Homo sapiens: one gene and its partner. The protein of the gene in region 1 purifies or fractionates together with the protein of each later gene. This does not show direct contact. Each region holds a gene or a part of one and is shown on either strand. Other genes may lie near its edges.

Evidence for each region.
Region 2: the proteins of AKR1D1 (region 1) and CKMT2 purify together in Homo sapiens (affinity purification with mass spectrometry; one large-scale study listed by BioGRID and IntAct). This does not show direct contact.

The regions. Positions count from the first base shown.
Region 1 is NC_000007.14:138,082,848-138,086,659, forward strand, and holds part of AKR1D1 (aldo-keto reductase family 1 member D1), read left to right. Parts: intron 1-3,812.
Region 2 is NC_000005.10:81,231,704-81,236,179, forward strand, and holds the start of CKMT2 (creatine kinase S-type, mitochondrial precursor), read left to right. Parts: upstream 1-1,618; 5' UTR 1,619-1,674; exon of another isoform or gene 1,675-1,678; intron 1,679-4,476. UniProt on the Homo sapiens protein: Reversibly catalyzes the transfer of phosphate between ATP and various phosphogens (e.g. creatine phosphate).

The DNA of each region.
Region 1 (3,812 bases):
TTGAGGCTGAATAATATTACATTGTCTATGTACCACATTTTCTTTACCTGCTCATCTGTCAGTGAACATTTAGGTTGTTTCCATATCTTAGCTATTGTGAATAATGCTACAGTGAACATGGAAGTGCAAATATTTCCTCAAGATAGTGATTTTATTTCCTTTGGATATATACCCTGAAGTAGGATTGCTGGATCATATGGTAGTTCTATTTTTAATTGTTTTTCTTGACCAACATGTTCTAATATATCTTTAATTTTTTTAGGAACCTCCATACTGTTTTCCACAGTAGCTGCACCATTTTACATTTTCACCAACAGTGTACAAGAGTTCTAATTTCTCTACATCCTCACCAATAATTGTTACCTTTCAGTTTTTTGATAATAGTCATCCTAATGGGTGTGAGGTGTTATTTCATTGTAGTTTTGATTTGCATTTCCCAGATGAATAGTGATATTGATATTTATATACCTATTGGCCATTTGTATGTCTTCTTTGGAGAAATGTCTACTCAAGTCCTTTGTCAACTTTTTAATCAGGTTAGGTTTTTCTTTGGGGTTTTTTGTTTTGTTTTGTTTTGTTTGTTTTTGCTTCTTTGCTATTGAGTTGTAGAAGTTCCTTTTAATTATATCTTGGATATTAACCCCTTGTGAGATATACGGTTTGCAAATATTTTCTTCTATTCCATAAGTTGCCTTTTAACTCTGTTGAGTGTTTCCTTTTCTGTGCAGAGGCTTTTTAGCTTGATGTAGTACCAACAACCTATTTTTGCTTTTGTTTCTTATGCTTTTGGTGTCATATCCAAGAAATCATCACCTATCCCAATGTCATGATGCTTTTTCCCTTATGTTTCCTTCTAGGAGCTTTACAGTTTCTGGTCTTAAAAATCTTTAATCCATTTTGAGTTGACTTTTTGTGTATGGTGTAAGATACAGGTCCAATTTCACTCTGATGACAGTTCCAATATTAGGATCTATGGTTCTGTTTAGGCTCTCAGTTGTTTCTACCAGTCTTCCTTTATGGAACTTTGTTTTCTGGGGTACCTGAATTCTTCAGCTGTGTGCAGGTTAATACTACTTTTAAAAAAGTATTTGTGAGCGAGCATCAAGGGTGAAAAACAAGTATTTTCTTTCAGACAACATTTGTGTGTGTTTGCTCCAGGTTCCCTGGAGGCATTGCTACCCAGTGACGATGTGAAACTGGTCAGCAGACTCCGGCTACATAGGTTATGAATTCTCCCAGGGACTGGAGGTGGCCATAGCCTGTTAGGGAGTTTTTTTACTTTCCTTTTTCATCTCCTACACCTCTCATTTCTGCATTCAGACTTTCCCATAAAATGTAGTTTGAATTAATAAATGCCTACTGTCTTTTCAGTACTTTTATGGTAATCTTTTCAAAAGTTTTAATCTAGCTTTTTTTTTTTTTTTTCTTTTTTTGAGACAGGGTCTTGCTCCAACACCCAGGCTGAAGCGCAGTGGCATGATTACGGCTCCCTGCAAATTCTGCCTCCCAGGCTCAAGCGAGTCACCAGACCCGGCTAATTTCTGTATTTTTTATAGAGATGGGGTTTTGCCATGTTGCCCAGGCTGTTCTCAAACTCCTGGGCTCAAGCGATCCTCCTACCTCAGCCTCCCAAAGCGCTGGGATTACAGGTGTGTGCCACTGCGCCAGCATAATCCAGCATTTTTAATTTTCTTAAGTAGAAGGAGATGCTGTCAGCCATTTTAGGAAACCAGATTTTTTGTTTTACTGTTCAGTGAGATTGTCTTTAATTGTGGAATCAAATTTTTATATTTTAGATTCTCCTATCATATCATTTATGTGGTATCCTATTTGATCTTTCCGATTTTTTTCAAAACTGGTTTTCCTAAAAAATGTGTCACAATTTATGTAGAATTTTTTTGTGCCACATTTAAGAATTACAAAGTGTGGGCCGGGTGCAGTGGCTCACGCCTGTAATCCCAACACTTTGGGAGGCTGAGGCGGGCAGATCACAAGGTCAAGAGATCGAGACCATCCTGGCCAACATGGTGAAACCCCGTCTCTACTGAAAATACAAAAATTAGCTGGGCTTGGTGGCACACACCTGCAGTCCCAGCTGCTCGGAAGGCTGAGGTAGGAGAATCGCTTGAACCCGGGAGGCAGAGGTAGCAGTGAGCTGAGATCATGCCACTGCACTCCAGCCTGGTGACAGAGTGAGACTCCGTCTCAAAAAAAAAAAAAAAAAAAAAAGAATTACAAAGTGTGGTCCTCATGTCCACAGTCCCAACTAGTTCCTCCATACTGATGAGAATTAAGTACAAAATAGTAATACATCTCACTGCTGCTTCTGCCTTCTGAGGGACAATATTTTTCAGCAAGTATATAAATATAAACATATAAATAAATAAGTAAATAGTAGATATCCAGTAAGTAAATATCCAGCTTTTAGAAGAGACTCCCTGGTGATAGCTGAATAATTGAAGATTTTCACTACTATAACTTGCTTCTGTGCCATAATCCTTATTAAATGAGTCATCATCCAAATATACAGCACCATGGTGGACTACACTCCTACCTTAGCCCTTGCCTTTGCCACTTTCTTTCTTTTTCTTTTCTTTCCTTTTTTTTTTTTTTTTGAGACAGAGTCTTGCTCTGTCACTCAGGCTGGAGTGCAGTGGCATGATCTCAGCTCACTGCAACCTCTGCCTCCCAGGTTCAAGAGATTCCCCTGCCTCAGCCTCCCAAGTAGCTGGGATTACAGGTGTCTACCACCACGCCTGGCTACATTTTGTATTTTTTAGTAGAAATGGGGTTTCACCATGTTGGCCAGGCTGGTCTTGAACTCCTGACCTCAGGTGATCTGCCCCGCCTGGGCCTCCGAAAGTGCTGGGATTACAGGTGTGAGCCACCATCCCCAGCTGTACTTTCTTTATCCTAAATGCTCTCCTCTGTACTTCATTTTTTGGGTTAATCTTCAAAAATACAAGCACCTACTTTAATACGCATTTGTCTGGGGCTCCCTTCATTGTGTACTTTAGCTCTTCATTTAAATGATCAGTTCCAGCCCATAAAATCTCAGTGATGTTTCTGAGATTCTATTTACCATCTAGTATTAAGCTTCATATATTAATAATATGTAGAGGGAGGCCAAGGCAGGAGGATCACTTGAGCCCAAGAGTTTGAGACCAGCATGGGCAACATGGCAAAACCCCATCTCTACAAAAATGTATGCCAGGCATGGTGGCACACGCCTGTAGTCCCACTTACTCGGGAGGCTGAGGTGGAAGAATCACTTGAATCTGGGAAGCCGAGGCTGCAGTGAGCCATAATCGTGCCATTGCACTCCAGCCTGGGTGACGGAGACCCTGTCTCTAATAATAATAATGATAATAATGTAGATACTTGAGAATGAAAGTAGATGTTTATTTTCTTCCCTGTAAATTTCTGGACACCACGCCTCACCTCCCCTTCCCACTGTACTTTGGTTGTCACACTTGTCATTCATAACATCTCATTTTACAGGCTTTTTTCTGGCCTTTTGACTCAATTACTGTCCAAGTCCTATTAATCATGTTGTTATTTAATTAACCAAACAAATATTTCTAATGTTGCTGAAATGTGTGTCTCCTTTTCCCAGCTATTTGATATTTGTGACTATGAATCTTATAATATCATCTATGTAGCCAGTTTGTTCATTTTTCGTATCCTCTTATCTTCTCTATAGTGATGACTTCCAACTGTAGCAGGGGGAAAAAATACAATATATGTCCCCAAGGCTTTCTATATCCTGCCCAGGACTATAAAATCACTAGAAATACATTTCAGATTTATTC
Region 2 (4,476 bases), on another chromosome or scaffold:
CAGCCACAGGGCAGCCTGGTGTGGCTAGAGCCCCAGAGCTTCAAAAGGAGTTGGTAACGATGAGAAGGGAATAGATGCCATGTGACAGGGATGGCATTTGAAAGATTTCCAGAAAGCCAGAATTTCTACTGTGAGTCCCTTGTAGAGATTTCATCCCCATCACACCACCTTTATAATAAGCTTGAAGAGGACCAGTCCCCCAAAAGAAGGGTGGTACCCTCTTTTCTCAACAATGACCCAATTTTTCTTCTGACCTTACTAACATAAACATTTACTCTATAAAATATAAGGTGTTGAGGTCGGGTGAGTGGAGGGGGCCCTAAATGTTGATTAGGCAATTGGGGAGGAAAAGGAGGTTTTTGCTATAACTGCCATTCTTTAAATCTACAATTCCATGCTCTTTAAAAGCCTTATAATTTTCTGGATCTGGGAGCTGGGCTATTTCAGGGTCAATGGATTTATTTCAGTTGGTGCCTGAACTGACTTGAAACAAGTGTGTGTGGAAAAGAGCTATTTTGAGAAGGAATAAACCGAGACTGCCCTGATGATAGAATATGCAAGCTGGTGGGTCTTGACTCCTTAAAGGATTATGAAATTAATTTGATTGGTCCCAATCTTTATATAACCACCCCAATCAGGAAACTTCCCATCCCGCCAAAAGGCCCCCTCACGTGCTCTCCCTGTCAGTACCCCATGCAAAGGTAAAATAGATGATATTTTTAAACATGGGTCGTGTTTAAAAGAAATGGAAACTCCTTCAGAGAATGAAGGAGAACCACACTGGGTAGAAGGTTATTCCTGGGGCTCCACCCCTTGCTCCATCAAGTCCTCTGAGCATGAGCTGGGCTCTGAGAAGGAAGAGACAGGAACCAATTGGTCATGTCCACGTGGCCTCAGAAGCTGAGTACGTGACGGTCACCAGATGCCTAGGCAGGCTCCCTTGAAATGGCAGGGCTGCTGTCCAAAATCCTGCTGGGTCATTGCTATTTACAGGCAGCCTTCCCGGCGTGCGGTGGATATCCCAAGCGGGGCTATTTTTAAGCAGGGCTATGGCCTGCCGTGGGTTAAGCTGGTGTGGACAGAAAGCGAGATGATCTAGCCATCTACTGCAGGGGGCCTGATCTTGAACAGAAACCTGACTGTAATTGTCCCTGGATCCAGGTCCCAGACAAAGACGCTGGAAGGAGGTCCCTCCAGCCCCTGGCTCAGGGCCCGGTCAGCTGCTGGAGCCAGGCAGCTTGAGACATCCTCCTCTCCGACCTTGGCTTGAGGGGTTCATCCTCCAGAGCTCACCAGGGCCCCAAGGCTGGTACACCTGAGAGAAGAGAGAAACAAATCCCCCAACAGATGTGCAATTTCACCTGCTGGCCCTTCCATTCTGAGATCCAGAGCCCTGGCAAAGGAGCCTCCAGGACCAGGCCTGGGAAGCAAGACTGGCTCCGCCTTTTACGTTTCAGAGAAAGGGCAGGTGCTATAAAGGGCCCAGCGCCCACGGGCCTGCCTTCAAGGGTACAGCTGTGGGGGCCGGTGCGCCCGGAGGTCTACGCTGGGATTGGTGAGGTCCTCTGGCCCCGCCCCGCCAGGGAGGATTTCCAGGCCGGCCCGACCAGCTCGCCCTGCATACACTTCTTGGCTGTGTGCGCTCAGCAGGACGTGGGAGGCTCCGGCTTCAAGGTCGGTGAGTCCGTGAAACTCTGCTTTATTCCTCCAAAGAGGGGTCATGGCTAGAGCCAGTGTGAAGGGCCTTGGAGGAGTGGATGCCGGGCTGTAGACGGGGACCCCGTTAGGACGCTGACTGCGAGGAGGCAATGGTGACTCGCTAAAGCCAGCAGAGCTCCCGCCCTTGGCCGAAGCGACCCCTCCTCCCTGCACACAGGTGGGGGCAGCTCAGCACCAGGAGCAGAACAAATCAGCACGCTGCCTGCAGGGCCTCTTTTTGGTAGTGAATCAGGAATTTTTCTCGATGGAAAAAAAAATCTAAAGGCTGTATTTTGACGCTAAGTTTGGGACAACTTTAAACTTAAAGTGTCTTTCCCTTGTAATTCACAGAGTCTAATCCACTCATTTCTGGGAATGTTTTTCCCCAGCAGTCTCAGTCTCAAAAGACATGTAAATCAGTGACTTGGGATGAACTAACTAGAAAATTAAAATTTTGAGAAGCTATTTGCTCATAAGCCCAATAGCCAGGCCCAGTTTAAACGGGCAAATAGTATTGCTAGAGATTCAGTTTTGCCGTCACTAATACTAACACATTGATAATGAGACAAGTAACCGTCTCCCCTCCCCACCATCCTTACCTTTCCCACCGGAGGTTAATTAAAAAAAAAAAAAAAAAAAAAAAAACCTATGGAATTGGCCCCACGTGTTTCACCTGGGCAGAGGCCTGTTCTTCACTAGCTTGCTTGCTTGGTTGGTTGTCCCGGGGTTAAAATCAGTCCTGTTCTTGCCCCTAGAGTGGTCTGCCTTCAAATGCTCTCCTCCGAATGTGAGGAAGAGTGACATTTGACAAACAGACCAAAACCTTTAGGTCTCCTCAGTGCTGCCCTTTAGACCTTCCAGAAAGTGTTGCCAGGCTCGTGACCCCTCACAGTGTCAGCTGAGTCAAGTGAGGGGCAGTTAGTGGCCCTCAGGACAAGGTTACGCTAGGTACACCAGTGTGCTGTTTCCAGAAGGGCTGCTTTTCCTGTCTACGGCTCTCACATTTTCTCTGTTCTGAACTCGTGTCCTTGGTCTGTTCTCTCTGTCCTCTCATAGAGGCGAGCATGGCCACAGCATGTGGCCAGAGACTTCCTGACAGGCAGGCTCTTCCGGGAGGCTCTTGGCCTTGTTTGGCGGTCTGAGCACTTCACTTCCTCTGCATTGATAGGCACCTTTTCCAAAGACCCCAGACTTTGGAGTTAATCACGCCTGTGGGTTAAGGCACTGTCACAGCAAAGCACAGGAGTGCCACATGCACCCCATGGACTCTGCCAGCCTCATGACCAAATCATATCATTAGGAAATGGGCCATAGGCAGGTCAGTTTTCCTAAGGAAACTGTGGGTTGGGTCGGGGGGAGTACCATACAGAATGGGGAGTCCTGGGGTTTCAGACACAGGAGGGAGACTGACTTTGCCCCTAGCTCAGAGGCCCTGGGCCTCCATCTCTGCCATAGCCTACAGCAGGCTCCATTTGTCTTCCCAAAGGAAGCCACGTAGAGTCTGTGTCAAGCATTCTGGGAGCTCCTGCCCACAGAGCCAGGAATCCAGCAGCAACCCATGCTGAAGGTGACTGCTGGAGGTCACACTAACCCTTGCCAGGAAGCCTCAGAGACTCCCTCCCTTGGGCGGGGAAGAAGGCAGCCCACTTCACAGCACTTCAAAGGACTAGATGGCTCCTAGCTTCCTGTTTTCTTGAAAACAATTTACCCTTGAGGGACAAAGTCTGGTAACGGTCCCATGCCTTCATCACAGGAGGCCTAGGAAAGGCCTCTGTTTTACAGAGTAGGATTCTAAATATCTCCTTCCTGCCTAGGACTGTCTATTTGCTGAGTAGAACAGTAATGCCAAGAGTGCCCATTAAGGTTGGCTGCGTACTAAGTGGTTTTGAGGTAACGCACACCCTTTGCTATCTTAGAACTGGGAGGAGACAGGCATTTTCTGCGGCCTAGGAGCCTGGCATCGTGAGAATTTGTTCAGAGTGTTCTGTGGAGCTGGTCCAAGCCCAAGGACATCCTCTGTTTTGGGGTGGCTCTCTGGATGGAAAGCTGACACGTGGTCCTCCTCCTGCCCTTCCACCTGCCCTCTGGCTGAGGAGTTCAGACACATGGACGCTGTGAATGGCTGGACCAGAAATAAATCTGAGTCAGCAGAAAGGCAGACATGGTCCATCCGGGATGCCCAGGAAGAGCAGGGGGCTCGGGCTGGAGGCAGTGACAGAACCCAAGGCCTCCTCTTCACATTCTAGGATGTCACAGAACCAGAGAAGAGCATTAAGACCAGGATCTGAACTCCCAGTATACCTGCCTGGGACCAAGAAATGTACAGCTTGTGGCCACTTAACAAAAGGGCTTGATGTAGCTGTCGTTGTTTTTTTAATGCGGAGGGCAGTGTAGGAACAAACAGGATATTATTGCTTTTGGCTCTGTCTGGCTGTGCTCTTGCACCTCCCCATCGCTCCAAATCTCCCTGGCTTGGAGCCCAGGTATTCTGCCAATTTTAGCCTAGATGCTGTAAGCAGTGTTTTTCAATTCAGGAGTCATTGTGGTGTTCCAGGTTAGGGAAACTGAGGCAGAAAGCTTCTATGGGGTGAGAGCTGGAGACCACCTTCCTCTTCACACTGGCACAGCATCCCTAGCAAGGCCTGGCAGGCACATTGAGCACTAGAGTCAGAGTGGAGCGGGCAGAGATATCCCTGGCGTCTGGGTTACTTCAGCGGGAGCCTGAGGACAGGGAAAGAGAACAAGTTTATAATCTGCAACTTTAGAAGTCATATGCCC